4 linked regions of the Homo sapiens genome follow. Changing the gene in region 2 together with the main gene of any one other region gives a genetic interaction. Each region holds a gene or a part of one and is shown on either strand. Other genes may lie near its edges.

The links.
Region 1: changes in EIF3M (region 2) and PSMD1 together harm fitness less than expected from each alone (positive genetic interaction), as found in Homo sapiens cells (one large-scale study listed by BioGRID).
Region 3: changes in EIF3M (region 2) and VPS72 together harm fitness more than expected from each alone (negative genetic interaction), as found in Homo sapiens cells (one large-scale study listed by BioGRID).
Region 4: changes in EIF3M (region 2) and ACACA together harm fitness more than expected from each alone (negative genetic interaction), as found in Homo sapiens cells (one large-scale study listed by BioGRID).

What each region holds. Positions count from the first base shown.
Region 1 is NC_000002.12:231,066,565-231,071,011, reverse strand, and holds part of PSMD1 (26S proteasome non-ATPase regulatory subunit 1), read right to left. Parts: intron 4,107-4,447; coding exon 3,901-4,106; intron 988-3,900; coding exon 844-987; intron 1-843. UniProt on the Homo sapiens protein: Component of the 26S proteasome, a multiprotein complex involved in the ATP-dependent degradation of ubiquitinated proteins.
Region 2 is NC_000011.10:32,597,072-32,601,518, forward strand, and holds part of EIF3M (eukaryotic translation initiation factor 3 subunit M), read left to right. Parts: intron 1-3,617; coding exon 3,618-3,761; intron 3,762-4,447. UniProt on the Homo sapiens protein: Component of the eukaryotic translation initiation factor 3 (eIF-3) complex, which is required for several steps in the initiation of protein synthesis.
Region 3 is NC_000001.11:151,179,561-151,184,007, reverse strand, and holds part of VPS72 (vacuolar protein sorting-associated protein 72 homolog), read left to right. Parts: intron 1-4,447. UniProt on the Homo sapiens protein: Deposition-and-exchange histone chaperone specific for H2AZ1, specifically chaperones H2AZ1 and deposits it into nucleosomes.
Region 4 is NC_000017.11:37,246,081-37,250,527, reverse strand, and holds part of ACACA (acetyl-CoA carboxylase 1), read left to right. Parts: intron 1-1,853; coding exon 1,854-1,935; intron 1,936-2,371; coding exon 2,372-2,517; intron 2,518-3,551; coding exon 3,552-3,702; intron 3,703-4,447. UniProt on the Homo sapiens protein: Cytosolic enzyme that catalyzes the carboxylation of acetyl-CoA to malonyl-CoA, the first and rate-limiting step of de novo fatty acid biosynthesis.

The sequences.
Region 1 (4,447 bases), on a different chromosome or scaffold from region 2:
GATATTTTTTCTTCTAGTATTTTGTTTCAAACTTGCTTTAAAAGGGATTGTAAAAAACAGTGTTTTAATCTAAATTTTCAAAGTCTAGAGGATTAAAATACACAGGAGCACATTTTAATGAAGAAACAATAAAATGTGCAATAAAATGCTATGCCCTGAGCAGAATACAAAAAATGTATACAACATAGCAATTGTTAAAAAGTAAACCCATGCACACCTCCAGTCAATAAAATACAATACAGTCATTAAAAGAATGCAGTAGATCCACATGTGTGAATAAGTAGGGAAAAACATCTATGTCTTACCTTTGGGAAAAAGCCCAAATGATGGGAAAGAGAAGCCTTACTTTTCATTTTATATATTTTCTGTACCATCTGAATTTTTTTTTATGTGCAAGCAAATTTATATATAGAAAGAGATAAAGAAAAGATACCCAAATGTTTTGGTGTGTATGGGTAATGAAACCATATATAATTTATACACTTTGAATTCTCTTTAGAATGATATAGTATAGCATAGGCACTGTTTTAATCTTCTAGCTTTTTAAAAAACCTTCGTTATTTCTAAAAATTTCCTTAAATTATTGGATTTTCAAAATGAAAAAAGAATACAAAGAAAGAATGTGTTACAACAAAATAGCTTTTTAGTGTTGTGAGATTTAGTTTCTTATTAATAAAAAGGAATATAAAGCACATACCTTATTTTCACAGGGCTGCTGTGAAGATCAGCTGAGATACATGTATAAAGCCATTATAGTAATATAAAGTAATAAAATGTGAAGTGGTATAGCATAGCACAGTACAGCGTGGAGCAATGTAATGAAACATAATTTAATGTCATTACCTGACAAACATTGATGAAATCAGGTTTCTCCAAGTTCATGTAGATTTTAACTAGAACTCTTAGTACTTTATTCCGAAACTGTTTATTCTGCATTAAAGACATGCAGAGCTTAAGGCTATAAGCTAACATTCCTGGGACATCATTCTGAAAGAGATAGTTTAAAGATATAACGTTATCTGGTTATTGCAGCATTATATTTATTTAGAAATTGAATTATTTTAATCTTGCTTCTTTAGCCAATCTAGGAAGCCAATTATTTAGACCTCTTAAGCAATACAAACTCAAGAATTTTAAACCATTTTAGATGAAAATCTTAAAAGAATTACATATTTCCACATCATCATAAAAAATGGATTAAAAATAATATTTAGTGGTACTCAGAATCACTATTACATGAACATAGTATACTATAATAAAGTGATGCTGTTAATTATTATAAAAGATATACAACTGTCCATACACTAAGTAGCTATGTTTTCCAAATGTGTCTGCTGAAGTCTTTCTGCTTCTTATCTTGCTACTAGACTCCCTCATGACTTACTGCCTACACTCACTTGCTGGCCAGGAAACACAACACAGCTCTCAGTGACTCAAGCATTGAGTACTGCCACATCTGTCTGGTGCTCTCCCTACAAGAAAACTTTGATCCAGGCTCTATGTGTTTACTTGGTGATTCTCAAAAGTATCCCCAATATTTGAGACTTCACCCTGTAAAAGGCCTTCAACATAAATTAGCACACTGAAAGCTACAGGAGTGTTTCTCAAAAAGTGAGTTGTGACTTTCCACTGCGTAATAAAATCAATTTAATGAAGTGTGACTAGCAAATTAAAAAAATAAAAAATACAATTTAAAAATAACAGAGTTATATCACAAGTAGTAAGAGTAGGTATTAGTTTCATAAAGCTTAAATTACATCTATATGTATATGTGCACTGGGATACAAAGAAAGATGCATTTGTTACTCTGCTTTTTTTTTTTTAAAACATTTTTCATTCTTTTACTTTATATATTTATTTGTTTGACTGCTTGTTCTCCTTCTAGATTCCCCAATGAAGTGTTTGCTTTGGGCAGGAACTTTGTTGGTCTTGTTTGCTACTATAGTAGGTGCTCCTTTATCTGAGAGGACTATGTTCCAGCACCCCCAGCAGATGCCTGAAACCACAAACAGTACCAAACTCTATATAAATTATGCACAAATTTCTGTTTTCTTCTTCACAATTTTATGGATGGAAGATTCATTCTTATGTACATCTCAGCGCAGCCTCAGCACAATTTTTTTTCTTTCCTTATTAAGTTGGGAATTTTCACTTTTTCAATTAAAGGAAGCAGTTTAAGGCTTCTCTTTAGCATATCTAAATTGCCAACATCACTATTTTTGTACTTTGAGGCCATTACTGAGTAGAATAAGGGTTATCTGAACACAAGCACTGTGATATTGCGACAGTCAATCTGATAAGCAAGGTGGCCACTAAAGTGACTAATAGGCAGTGTACACAGCATAGATCTACTAGGATGATTCACATCCCATGCGGGATGGAAAGAGATGGTGAGAGATTTCGTTGTGCTAGTCAGAATGGTGCACAATTTAAGACATGAATTGTTTATTTCCGGAATTTTCTATTTAATATTTTCAGTCTGTAGTTGACTGCAGGTAACTGAAACCACAGAGAGCAAAACCATGGATGAATGGGGACAATGCACATCTCCAATGCCTAGAACAGTATCTGGCAAACAGTAAGCACTGAAAAAATATTTGTTGAATAAATGAAAGCCAAAAATGTAATCTTACACACACGAAGACAAGGATGGGCTAAAACTGCACAAAAATGAAATTGAGAGGGAAACAAGGGCCATTATATCACATTAGGCCATTCATTCATTCACTCATTTAAACAAATCGTATTATCGACGCTAAACACTGTGTTAGGTTTTGGGGATACAGTGGTGAAAAAGGCACAAATACCTGTCCCGATATAGCTTATGATCTAGTGGGAAAGACAGCTATTAACTATCTACTAATACAATTATCAAGGGATAAACACCATGAAAAAATGTACAGGGCTCCATAAGATTAACAACAGAACTGGACCTAGTCTTTGCTTAGGGGCTGAGGAAGGCATGGGTATTGGGATCAAAGTTCTGCAAACAAGGGATAGTTGAGCTAAGTTTTGGATTGTGAGGAGAAATAAAGCAGGCAAAGAAAGGAATGGAGGGCAGGTGTGGTGGCTCATGCCTATAATCCCAGCACTTTGGGCGGCTGAGACGGGTGGATCACTTGAGGTCAGGAGTTTGAGACCAGCTTGGTCAACATGATGAAACCCCAACTCTACTAAAAATACAAAAATTAGCTGGGTGTGGTGGCACACGCCTGTAATCCCAGCTATTCAGGAAGCTGAGATGGGAGGATTGCTTGAACCCCGGAGGCAGAGGTTTCAGTGAGCCAAGATTGCGCCACCGCACTCCAGCCTGGTTGACAGAGCGAGACTCCATCTCAAAAAAAAAAGAAAGAAAAAAGAAATGTAAAAAATATTTTTGGAAGGGGGAACGAGGCAGGGTTCATCTAGATGAGAAGATACCAAAATGGCTAGTGTACAGAGAGCTAGCTCATGGAAAGAAATAGCTGGTGAGGCAAAGTAAGCCTGCAGATCAATGTCCATTTTACTCAGCTTTGTACCTTTCTGACCACTTCGGTTGGTGACTTAAATTGTCTTAATTATTGCAAACACCGCAAACCAGGAATCTAGCTGAGTAGTTTTAACCCTAATAAATGCATTAAAATATAGTTTATTGTCTTCTTAAAAAGGGCAGAGTAATTAATACAACTTCCCCATGCAAGACTTCAAAGGATTATGTGGTAAGATAAAAGCAGATATTTCATGAACACAAAACACAACCAAGGTTCATACATAAATATGAAAATAAAATATTTGGCAAAAGATCACCTGCTATTTCTAAACTAGATTTTCTTTTCACTGCCTATGAAAGTTTCAGTTTGAATAACTTGCTTTGCTGATTCCCTATCAACAATAATTTCTAAAATAACATCATCTACCTACCGACTCCAGTATGGTCTTTTCAAAGACGTCCAGTCTTCGTGTCTCCAGAGCAATGCCAATAGCCTGTTTATACTTGTGATCATCTAGACATCGCTGGAACATTTTATTTACGATGCCTTCCAATCTCTGGTCAATTGGTTTTTTTTCTCCTTCAGGCAAATCTGCATTTTCCACACATTGTTTGGTGTAGTGATCAATGCATTTTGCTGTTGAGGAAATAAAATAACTGATTATCTTGTAAATTGGGCTAAACTATCAGAAAGGGCAATGCCTATATTTATAATCATATATACTTATGGGATGACTATAAAGCAATAAGCAAATTTTGAAATGCTAGAACTTATGCATTTGAATACTGTTCTCCCATAATATTTACACCGGAGAACTACACATTAATTCCAATCCAGTTGACATTATTCAAAACATTTCTATCTGCCAGGTGTGGTAGTGCTCACCCACAGTCCCAGCTACTCGGCAGGCTGAGGCAGGAGGATCACATGAGCCCAGGAGTTCAACGCCAGCCTGAGCACCACAATGGGACCCTGTC
Region 2 (4,447 bases):
ACATTTGTTTTTAAAATTTAGAGATGGAGGAGTGAGCAGAAAAGCAACTGAAAGAATTACCATTACTTTGATCATAATGGTAACTTTCAGAAATGTTTTAAGAGCTGATAAAATTTGATGATTAAAGGTACTTTATTAAGCTAAACATTATTCTTAAAATAATATTGTTTCTTTGTAGAAGACTTTATTCCTTAGATATATGGTGATTTGTATTTTTGGTCCCTTTTTTTAAGCCATAGCCACAGAATGGTAACAAATAGTTTTTTCCCCCCTACTATACTATTTTATGCTTGGATACCCCCGCCATTAACAAATTACAAAAGTATATAGTATTGCCAGTTAGATCTGAAAGATGGAATTAGAAATGGAAATGTAATTTTACATGATAGTAAGACTTTTCTAACTACGTTTGTTGAAAACAGCATAGTCTTTATTATTTTTATCTTTGAATTTTCTTGTCTAGCGTATCAGTTCAGTAAATGTTTGTCAAATTGAATCAAATCTTATTCATCCTTATTGAGCAAACCCTACATATGTTCAATATTTTAATTTCCTTCTGGAGCATGTTTTTAACATACTAAAATACAAAGAGAAAACTCAGAAAATCTGCAGTTGAACAGGTTTTAAATGTTGTAAACTACCAGTTTCTTTACACTGGAGTCAACTGTGAAACTAAGGTGCTTTGTTCTCCTACTAGGCAATAATCAAAACACATTAGAGATTGATTATATTTTCCATATTAAGACTGAATTTTTTTTTGTTTTTGAGACTAGTCTTCCTGGTTCTTGACGATACAGATGAATGTATGGTCTATTTTGATAGTCTTCAATTTGGTAATCATTAATGCTTGTCACCTGTAAATTGTGTGCCTCCATTGGAATTGGGGAAGATTGACTTATTCTGAACATAATAAGGCATTTGAAATACACCAAGATAAAGTAGATGTAAGTGTGTTTGTGTAGAAAGCTTTGCCAGGTGCACTAGACCCAGAAAACCACATTCTGTCCCAGTTAATTTGTTTTGTGGCATGAAGCTATGTGATGGAATGTTAATGTCAGCAACCTCTTTATTTACGCACCAAGGAAAAAGGAGTAGTAATTAACACTTTGACACTCCCCCATTGATGTGTAATTGACTGTTTCAAAGGAGCACTGGTTCATAAGCTATTGCATGCATTAAAACTGGGTTTTCTATATTGCAGCATTTTAAGACAGGGGTCAGTGACAATGCAGAAATTGCTCAATGATGCACTTTTTTTATTACTGCATTAAGGTTTTGACATATTAGTAATGAATAAATGTTTCCATAAAATTAGATTTTTTATAACTTTAAAATTGAAATATGACACAGTACACTGTGACTTCCTCTTTGATGGTAGTATTTTAGTTTTATGAAACAAAGCACAGCTTCCTACAAAGTCTTTAACTCATACTTCACTGCCTTAGTAGTTTGATTTTTCAGAACAAGAGTCCTAAGGGTTTTAAGTTTGGTTCTTTGTTACTTTAAACATCAATTTAAAGTGTTTTTAGATGCAAGTTTTCACATGTAAAATAGATAACGGTTTTATGGAATTCAGCCTAGAAATAATCTTCATTCCTCTGATAAGTTTTTTCATTTATGGTAAGATTGTAACTGCAGAAAAGATAAGCAGTAAAATAGATTTAATTTCAGGAGTATTTAAAATAATAGAAATTTCAGAAGTTTCTATCACTTTATATTGAAAGAGAGTTGTCTGTCCATGCCAATAGAACTGAGAATGTTAAGGAATTTTTGAAAAAAATCTTTAATACTTATTCATTGATAAGAAAAAATTCGTTAACATTGCTAATTTATTGTGCCAGCTAGAATTCAAATTCCTTCATTTGCCTTACGTTTCTTGAACATCTATGCAAATCAGTATTCTATTAGAAATTTGTTTATATGCTTTTCAGAAAACATCTTTATATTAATGTGTATATTTTTTATTTTAATTCTATAATTAAACATTTATTACAGCTGAAAGCCTAGTGACAACTATCTAGATTCCACAAGTTGCAATCAGTTTGTCAGAACATTTTCCTTTATTAACACTGACAACTTAGGCCAACAGTAGCATTATCTTGTGTCAACTGAATTGCCCTAACATGTCCACATGTAATCTGGTGTTATCCAGTTGCTACCTTTTGCTTCAGAAAGTTAATCGGCATCTAATTTGCATTGTTAATTAGGGTTAATGTGCACTAATTGATTTCTTGGCGCCTGTAGATTTCCATTAAACCCAGTTAGCAATACTTCCTTGTATACCTCATTCATTTGAGTTATGGTGATCATGTTTTTGTTGAATCTGTGCCAAATAGGAAGCCTGTATCATAATTACAGCTAATTAACAGATGATCATGTCCTATGTTAATGGGCTTCCCTAATCTTCCACTAATATATGAATGTTATAAATTTAAAATTTATTTATGGAGTGTTTAGAGAGTGAACTTTTTAAACAATACAGACTTGAAGCTCTGAATTTATTACAGGGCACTTGATTGATCATTTGCTGATTTTACATAGTTCAAAAGTTCAGAGAAAAGGAACATGTAAATCTAGATTAGTTTTAGAAACTTAGTTTTATAATTAATAAGTTAGCATCAAAACAAGTATATATGATATTATGTTAGAATTCTGCTCCTACTTAGGACTAGGTTATATATTTAGGATTCCTAATTTTTAAAATTTCTAGCCCTTTATTTTAGAAATGAACCTATTCTAGGCCTAGCACTGCTATTTTTTGACTATAAGTCCCCATTTAATCTCTTTGCTCCTCAGTTTTGTTTTTAAAGTGAAAGGATCAGGACTGGGTAATTCCTTAAGTTTTCTTCTAGGCCTAACACATTGTTGTTATTTGAATAATTACAACAGCATGTTTCATTAGAAATTATAATGCAAAATTTGAATTATTTGTGCAATTTTCTACTTTTGTCTTATAAAGAACAAGTATCACTTTTAATGGTATTCTTTAATTATATCTAGTACTAACTGTATTGGCCTATAAATGTTAAATGACACACACACTTTGACAGTTTTGGTTTGTAAGTAGTTTTGATTTTTAAATAGTGACCTGAAGCAAAATGGAATGTTTTCATAACTGAAAATGTTTGTGAAAGTATTTTAAAACTTCAGGTTTACCAGTAATAGTAACACAGAAAAAACTAATAAGTAGATAAGAAATCCTCTGTGTTTAAATGAAGAGCTATTAGTGTGAAAAATAAGCTTAGGTAATTTAACTAAATAGAAATTGTTCTTATGAAATGTACTTTGTAGATTTTATCTCCTAAAATGTATAACTATTTAAAAATGTAAAATGTGCAAAACTTTTAGGGTCTAAAAATAATCATTTTATGGCCGATTCTTAACTTTGAATCTATCACCTATGGTACTATAGAAAAATTGTTTTTAATACTCTGTGGAGTCAGTTTATAGTTTGCAAATATAAGAAGCTTTGTCAAAATTGTTCTATATAAGTGCTCAAACAATAATTTCCACAATTACAAAAGTAAAAATAATTTCCACAGCTTAACATGAGATGTAATTGTGCAGGTCTTTAATTAGTATGAACACTCATCAGGCTTCACTATTCTGTTTTCTAGGCCTGTTACATGAACAGAATATGGCAAAAATGAGACTACTTACTTTTATGGGAATGGCAGTAGAAAATAAGGAAATTTCTTTTGACACAATGCAGCAAGAACTTCAGATTGGAGCTGATGATGTTGAAGCATTTGTTATTGACGGTAAGGCAGACAGAACATTTTCATTTATTTCTAGAATTTCTCATCTACTACATGGATCATAGTAAGATTTTTATCTGGAAACTGAGCCTTACACAACAAAGATTTGTTTATAGCAGATGTGTATTTAGTAGATTAGTGGATATATTTGTTGTAGGGTGAAAATTTAGTAGAAATATAAACTGCTATATTCTATCCCTTGAAATCACGTAGAACAAAGACGTTTAGGCAATACACCACTGTGGTTAAGAGCACAGATTTTAGTATTAGATGTGGATTTAAGACCAGGCCCTTCCTTTGTGAAACAGGAATGTAGGGGTTCATTTGTGGTTGTAAGAATTAAATGAATTAATACAGGTAAAGCACAGTGCCTGGCACATAGTAAGTGATCTTTCAAGTGTTAACCATTACCAGTTTTTTTATGATTAGCCTAGAAACAAGAACTTCTTCCCCAACAATTAGATTATAAAGCAACTTAACTGCTCAGGAATTTTTTCTGAGCTTTTTAAATTTGAAAGTTGGGATTATGCAATTAAGATTAATAAAAGGTACAGAACTATTGACCTTTTTTCCCCTAATGCTCTAAGTTTTCTATGAAGAAGTAATAACTTAGTAGGAAATTAGTTTATTCCCCTATATGAGATGGTAGGGGAAGAACACCTAGCATTCTTTAAAAAAAAAAAAAAAAA
Region 3 (4,447 bases), on a different chromosome or scaffold from region 2:
AATGGGGTATATACCTAATGACTCAGGAAATTTAGGCAGGAGGATCACTTGAGGCCAGGAGTTCATAACCAGCCTGGACAACATAGTGAAACCCCATCTCTTAAAAAAAAAAAAAGCAGGGGGTGATAATGTTGACTTTAATGATAATCATGAGAACGTGAAGTCAGCAGATTAGTCCTTCATGAGATAAATTGCTTTAAAAATCTCTTCATTTTATGGTATTGCTTTAAAAATCTCTTCAGTTTGGGCCAAGCGCAGTGGCTCATACCTGTAATCCCGGCACTTTGGGAGGCCAAGGTGGGTGGATCACTTGCAGTTGGGAGTTCCAGACCAGCCTGGCCAACATGGTGAAACCCTGTCTCTACCAAAAATACAAAAATTAGCTGGGCATGGTGGCGCATGTCTGTAATCCCAGGTACTTGGGAGGCTGAGGCAAGAGAATCATTTGAACCTGGGAGGTGGAAGTTGCAATGAGCCGAGATCACACCACTGCACTCCAGCCAGGGCTACAGAGCGATTGGTTTGGACCACTGTAAGGAGAGTGACTCCCAGGTTTTCCTTTCTTTTTTTTTTTTTTTTTTTTTTTGAGACAGAGTCTTACTCTGTCGCCCAGGCTGGAGTGCAGTGGTATGATCTCGGCTCACTGCAAGCTCCGCCTCCTGAGCTGGAGATTCTCTTGCCTCAGCCTCCCAAGTAGCTGGGATTACAGGTGCCCGCCACCATGCCCAGCTAATTTTTTTGTATTTTTAGTTGAGATGGGGTTTCACCATGTTGGCCAGGCTGGTCTTGAACTCCTGACCTCAGGTGATCCACCCGCCTCACCCTCCCAAAGTGCTGGGATTACAGGCTTGGGCCACCCCGCGGCAATTCCCAGGTTTTCAACATCAGTAACTGGCTTAGGAGACCCTGAAGGAGGAGCAAGTTCAGTGGGGAAAAAACAAATTTATTTTTGAACATGTTGAATTTAAGGAGTTTGTGAGCAATTCATGCAGTGATGAGAGGTCAGTTAAATATGCAAATCTGGTGTTCCAATAAGAGATCTGGGCTGAAAATACAAATTTGGAAGTCTTTAGAATATGGGTGGTAATTGACAATATTGGAGTGCATCTGAGCATGTAGGGAGAAAGCTCAGAGTGAGAAAACAGAGGCCTGATAGAGTCCTGCAGACACTAAAATGTGATAGTTTCATACAAGAGGAGGAGCTTTGAAAAGAGCCTGGAAGTGACCAACGAGTTGGAGAAACCCAGGAGAGTTTGTGTTAAAAATGCCAGGAAAGAGAATGTCTCAAGAGAGTAATTGCTGCTGAGACGATGATTAGTAGAACTGAGAAGTGCCCATTGGTTTTGGTGAGATAGAGGTCAGACATTACCTTAGCACTTTTTGGGGACCAAGTCGAATCAAAGTATATTGGGGAGCAAAACTTTTCAAGCTTGGCCATGAAGGGTAGAAGAGGGAATGGAAGCTACAGAGGGGTGTGAGATTAAGGTAAAGTTGTTTTTATTTTATTCGAAGATATTAGAAATTATGTCTTTCATGAGAAAGAACTGAGTTTAAAGAAAGAGAAGAAAAAACGGTTATTAATAGTGTAGGTTTTTGGAGATGGGAGGCAAGGCTGGGAACCAGAGCAGCATGGTGGAGGAATTGGCTTCAGATGGGGGAAGGGAGAAAGAAAGTGTGGTGGCCGGGCGCCGTGGCTCACACCTGTAATCCCAGCACTTTGGAAGGCTGCGGCGGGTGGATCATCTGAGGTCAGGAGTTCGAGACCAGCCTGACCAACATGGAGAAACCCTGTCTCTACTAAAAATACAAAATATTAGCTGAGTGTGGTGGCACATGCCTGTAATCCCAGCTACTTGGGAGGCTGAGGCAGGAGAATCACTTGAACCCGGGAGGCGGGGGTTGCGGTGAGCCGAGATCGTGCCATTGCACTCCAGCCTGGGTAACAAGAGTGAAACTCTGTCTCAAAAAAAAAGAAAGAAAGTGTGGCTTAGCTGAGTGCAGTGGCTCATGCCTGTAATCCCAGCACTTTGGGAGGCCAAGGAAGGAGGATCGCTTGAGCCCAGGAGTTCAAGACCAGCCTGGGCAACATAGTGAGACCCTGTCTCTGTTTAAAAATGTGGCTTACAGTTGTAGGTTTGTAATCCAGAGGGAGGGCATGGCGGAGGTTCTCACCTGATGTCTTTTTCATTATGCAGCACCATCTGTCAAACATTAAGGATACAGCTGGAAGCTTGAGGAGACTGAGGAGCATTTAAATAGTTATTGATGTGGGATATTGAGCAGTATTGAGGGACCTGCTGAAGGCTAGGACCATGAATTTATGGTGGTTCCAGTCTGTGCTGTTATTTTTCTCCAGTAGCACTCAGCAGTCCAGATCAGGGCAAGGGAATTATTGACAGGAGAGTGACTGAAGTGATTGAAATGATACAGTGAGCAACCTAAGCATGATTTAAAAAGGAAAATGTGACTGGGCGCGGTGGCTCACATCTGTAATCCCAGCACTTTGGGAGGCCGAGGCAGGCGGATCACAAGGTAAGGAGTTCGAGACCAGCCTGGCCAACATGGTGAAACCCCGTCTCTACTAAACATACAAAAAATTAGCCAGGCATGGTGGTGCGTGCCTGTAGTCCTGGCTACTCGGGGGGCTGAGAATCACTGAGGAGAATCACTTGAACCCGGGAGGCGGAGGTTGCAGTGAGTGGAGATCGTGTCGCTACACTCCAGCCTGGGCAACAGAGTGAGACTCAAAAAAAAAAAAAAAGTAAAGTGACATGGAAAAGAAGGTTGTTAGAGATGAGGTGATAAACTGTGGCCATGCAGTGTTGAAGGGGCTACCCATGTGCACTTCGAAGTCACCAGGGTGACCCTAAGATGATGGGAATTGGGGTAGAGACGAAGAGTGGAAACCACTGCCAAAGTCTTCAGTGAATGAAGGAGTGACCATGACTAGGAAGGAGAGAAGTTAATCTAGACTCTTGGCACAGGTCTCAAAAGAGAAGGGAGTTTGCTGGTAGGCAGAAAAGCAGTGCTCTGAAAGCTACAGGGTGGGGCCCAGTAGGACATAGGTATATCCTGTAGGGATGTAAGAGAATGAGCAACCTCCACCAGAGGTCTGCAGAGAGGAGTGGTGGCCTCAGTGAATGACCAGGTTTCTGTTAAGGCAAGTCATGGAAGGAATGCTGAGTGAGGAGCTTGAGGATATAGATGAGTTGGCAGATTACAGAGCACGAGTTCCAGAGGGTGTAGGCAAGTGTTTGAAAGTAGAGGGGTTGGGCCAGGCGTGGTGGCTCACGCCTGTAATCCCAGCACTTTGGGAGGCTGAGGTGGGCGGATCACGAGGTCAGGAGTTCCAGACCATCCTGGTCAACATGGTGAAACCCCGTCTCTACTAAAAATACAAATATTAGCTGGGCATGGTGGCACGTGCCTATAGTCCCTGCTACTCAGGAGGCTGAGGCAGGAGAATTGCTTGAACCTGGGAGGGGGAGGTTGCAGGGAGCCGAGATTGTGCCACTGTACTCCAACCTGGCGACAGAGCAAGACTCTGTCTCAAAAAAGAAAAAGAAAGTAAAGGGGTTGAGGCGTTGGAAGACTGGCTCAAAGGAGAGAAAGCAGTATTATCAAACAGTTCAAGTGCAAGAGAGGTTCAATCATTGGAAGGGTTTCCAGAGTACTCTTTTTTTTTTTTTGAGACGGAGTCTTGCTCTGTCACCCAGGCTGGAGTGCGATGGCACAATCTCAGCTCACTGCAACCTCCGCCTCCCAGGTTCAAGTGATTGTCCTGCCTCAGCCTCCCGAGTAGCTGAGATTACAGGTGCAAGCCACCACGCCCAGCTAATTTTTGTATTATTAGTAGAGACAGGGTCTCACCATGTTGACCAGGTCTGTCTCAAACTCCTGACCTCAGGTGATCCACCCGCCTAGGCCTCCCAAAGTGCTGTAATTACAGGCATGAGCCACCGCACCTGGCCTCCAGAGTACTCTTTTATGGTCAGACTTTAGGGAATTGTGTTCATCATAACCATATTTAAGGACACAGAAATCTGGAGTTCATTCAGAGGAAGGGGACGAGGAATATTTTGATTCATTTTTTTTCGTATGTTTGTTTTGTCTTTGGAGATGGAGTTTCACTCTTGTTTCCCAGGCTACAGTGCGATGGTATGATCTTGGCGCACCGCAACCTCCGCCTCCCAGGTTCAAGCAATTCTCCTGCCTCAGCCTCCCGGTAGCTGGGATTATAGGCATACACCACCACATCTGGCTCATTTGGTATTTTTAGTAGAGACGGGGTTTCTCCAAGTTGGTCAGGCTGGTCTCAAACTCCCGACCTCAGGTGCTCTGCCCACCTCAGCCTCCCAAAGTGCTGGGATTACAGGCGTGAGCCACCGTGCATGGTGATTCTTTTTTTTGAGACGGAGTCTCACTCTTTTGCCCAGGCTGGAGTGCA
Region 4 (4,447 bases), on a different chromosome or scaffold from region 2:
TAGCTGGGACTACAGGCACGCACCACCACGCCCAGCTCATTTTTGTATTTTTAGTAGAGACGGAGTTTCAACATGTTGGCCAGGATGGTCTCGATCTCTTGACCTCGTGATCTGCCTGCTTTGGCCTCCCAAATAGCTGGAATTAGAGGCGTGAGCCACTGCGCCCAACCTTAATCTTTATCTTTAAGAACAGTTAACACATTCATGTGGTTCAAAATTCAAAAGGCACAAAAAAGATAAGCAGTGAGAAGTCTCTCTCTTACCTCTGTTCCTTGGCCATCCAGTTTCCGTCCCCTATAGTAAATTCATATTACCAATTTCTTTTCTAACCTTCCAAAGATACCCTAAACTTACATGAACATATATATGTGTATTAGTCTGTTCTCACACTGCTAATAAAGACATTCCCAAGACTGGCTAATTTATAAAGGAAAGAAGTTTAATTGAGTCACAGTTCCAGATGGCTGGGGAGGCCTCACAATCATGGCGGAAGGCAAAGGAAGAGCAAAGACACATCTTTCGTGGTGGCAGCCAAGAGAGAAAATGAGAGCCAAGTGAAAGGGGTTTCCCCTTATAAAATGATCAGCTCTCGTGAGACTTATTCACTACCATGAGAACAGTATGGGGGAACCGCCCCCATGATTCAAGTATCTCCCACTGGGTCCGTCCCACACCACAAGAGAATTATGGGAGCTACAGTTCAAGATGAGATTTGAGTGGGAACACAGCCGAACCATATCAACATGCAATATTTGTTTCTTCCCACCTCCTGGTTTTTTAAAACTCAAATGGTAGCATGCTGTGAAGCTGTTATTTACCTTGCTTTTTTAACTCAACAGTATATTTTTTAAAGTGTTTTTTAGTTCACATCTTTTTAATGTCTGTATGTTTTGTTCCACATGTGAAAACATGCGCAACATCACTAATCATTAAGTAAATAAAATCAAAACCATGATGAGATACCACCTCACACCCATTAGGATGCCCACTGTCAAAAAACAGAAAATAGCAAGTATTGGCAAGTACGTAGAGAAATTGGGACACTTGTGCACTCTTGATGGGAATGTAAAATGATGCAGCCACTATTGAAAAATGGTATTGCAATTACTGAAAAAATTAAAAATAGAATTACCCTATGATCTGGTAATACCACTTCTGGGTATTCTGAAAGAATTGAAAGCAGGGTCTGAAAGATACTTGCACAGCCACATTCATAGGAGGATTATTCACAGTAGCTAAAAGATGGGAGCAACTCAGATGTTGGTTGATGGATGACTGGATAAACAAAATGTGGCATATACATACAATACAGTATTATTCAGCCTTAAAGAAGAAGGAAATTCTGACACATGCTAAAACATAGGTGGATCTTAAGGACATTAGGGCAAGTGAATTAAGCCTGTCACAAAAAGACAAATACTATATGGTTTTACTTATATGAAGTATGAAGAGTAGTCAGACTCATAGAACTAGAAAGTAGAATGACGGTTACCAGGAACTGGGGGGAGGGCGAAATTGGGAGTTGTTAATGGGTGTAGAGTTTCACTTTTGCCAGTTGAAAAAGTCCTGCAGATTGGTTGCAGAATAGTGTTAATATCCCCAACACTATAGAACTGTGCATTTTGTAATGGTTAAGATGGCAAATTTAATGTAATGTGTATTTTACCCTAATTTAAAAAAATCCATTGTAAGATTCATAATTGATGTGATCAATTCCTTACAAACGATCATTTAGGTATTTAGGTTGTTTCTAGTCTTTTGTTATTCTAGGAAATGCTACAATCAATAATGTTTTAGATTCTCTTATAACTGTTAGAACTTTGTAGTAAGTTCCTCTCTCATCGTTCTTTCAGGGGTCAAGTCCTTCCTGCTCATACACTTCTGAATACAGTAGATGTTGAACTTATCTATGAGGGAGTCAAGTATGTACTTAAGGTATGCAGAACCCCATTGGAGCTTGCACCTTACTTTTTTAGCTATCTTTCTTTAGGTTGAGAGGCAGGAGAAAAAGTTTGATTTAATGCAGGGATGGGGGTATTAGTGAAATTACCGTCATTATTTTTGTCAGTGTCCTGAAGCAGCGTTTGTTGTTCTATGAAAATCTTTTTTGTTGTTCTTCAACTTCACATACACTGCCAAGAGATAAAGGAGAGACAGAGAACAACCACAGTTGGGGAAAATCAACTAAGGTTGCCCTCTTTGCTTACAGCAGGACTGAGCCATGTCCACAGACACTGATGCAAATAGCATCAGTGCCATGAATTTTCTTCCTCCTGACAGATCTTTCTTATCTGTATTTTTGAAGCATTCAAATTTCATTTGGAGCTGTACCTGGAAGGGACACACTGATCCTCATTCTCATTCCCTACAGGTGACTCGACAGTCCCCCAACTCCTATGTGGTGATCATGAATGGCTCATGTGTAGAAGTAGATGTACATCGGCTGAGTGACGGTGGACTGCTCTTGTCCTATGATGGCAGCAGTTATACTACGTATATGAAAGAGGAAGTGGATAGGTAAGTGGCTGTTTGAGGTCCATTTGCTGGTCATCCTGTTAGCCTTTTCTCTTATTAGCTACTAGCTCTTGGGATTTTCCCAGGCTTTTCTTGGTACTCATTTGTAGTTAAAAAAAAAAAAAATAGTACATGCACTTAACAAAAATATCAAGAGTATTAAAGTGTTTATAATTAAAAACATGTCTCCCTACCACTCCAGTGTATGTGGACAATGAAAAATAAGTTCCCCTTTTTATAAGTAACCATTGTTAAAAGTTTCTTACATATTTGAGTAGAAATTTTATATGCATATACAAGTTACACTCATGTACATACTGTTTTTCTTTAAATACATTCACAAATGTGGCTGGGCGCGGTGGCTCACGCCTGTAATCCCAGCACTTTGGGAGGCCGAGGCAGGTGGATCACCTGAGGCTGGGAGTTCAAGACCGGTGTGGCCAATGTGGTGAAACCCTGTCTCTACTAAAAATACAAAATTAACCAGATGTGGTGGCTTATGCCTGTAGTCCCAGCTACTTGGGAGGCAGAGGCAGGAGAATCACGTGAACCTGGGAGGTGGAGGTTGCGGTGAGCCGAGATCACGCCATTGCACTCCAGTCTGGGCAACAAGAGCAAAACTCCGTATCAAAAAAAAAAGAAATTCACAAATGTTCAACACCAGTTATGGTGTTATGAGAATGAAATAAATTAACATGTTGAAAATGTGTAGAACATTGCCACAACATAGCTAGGCTTCAAGAAATGTTAGCTATTACGTCATCAATATCTTTGTGTGTGTTTTTTTAAATGGTGGTACCTGTTATTTTTAATAGTCATGTGGTATTCCATTATATGATTATACTATATTTAATCTGATCCTTATTGAAGGAAATTTATGTTAATTGACATTGTAAACAAATATGCAGTGAATATGTCTGTGTGTGTGTATAATAAAGTTTTCAGGATTTTTTTTCTTTGAAGGTTGACATTCTCTACCATTCTCCTTTACATCCTGAGGTGCTTTCTTAGCTTACATACTTCCACTTGTCTCCTAGATATCGCATCACAATTGGCAATAAAACCTGTGTGTTTGAGAAGGAAAATGACCCATCGGTGATGCGCTCACCTTCTGCTGGGAAGTTAATCCAGTACATTGTAGAAGATGGAGGTCATGTGTTTGCCGGCCAGTGCTATGCTGAGATTGAGGTCAGGGTGGTGAAAGGACTGTGGGATCATGGGAGGGGAAGGTAGGAAAAGGGTCGGCTGGGATGGACTAGGACTGAAAAGTTACAGAAAGGAGGCTGGGCACAGTGGCTTGTGCCTGTAATCCTACCACTTTGGGAGGCTGAGGCAGGAAGATCGCTTGAGCCCAGGAGTTCGAGACTAGCCTGGGCAAGATGGTGAGACCCCATCTCTATGAAAAATTAAAAAATTAGCGGCGTACAGTGGCACATGCCTGTAGACCCAGCCACTCTGGTGTCTAAGGCGGGAGGATCCCTTGAGCCCAGGAATTCAAGGCAGCAGTGAATGGAGATTGTACCACTGTACTGGAGTGGTACAATTTGTGGCCTGCGTCACAAATCAAGACCCTATTTCTAAAAAATTAAAAAAAAAGGTAACAGATTGGAAATAAGAATGAAAAAGAAACATCAGTTGGCTTAATTAGAAGTGCGAACCTTAAGATTTTTAAAACACATAGGCAAATGAGGAATCTCTAGTTCTAAAAATAGATACTAGGCAATAGCACTTGTTGAATGTTAGGTGTCCTAACTGCTGGCTATCCAGAGAAAATACATGGAGGTGGGGCACAAAACAGACAAGAAATGTCATGTGATTAATTTTAAGAGAGCTAAGCATAGAGTGCAGAGGGTCACCTAACCCAAATCAAGCTAAGCTTGTATGGGAAGATATTCTGAAAGAAGAGACATTTGATCTTAGTTTTGAAAGACAG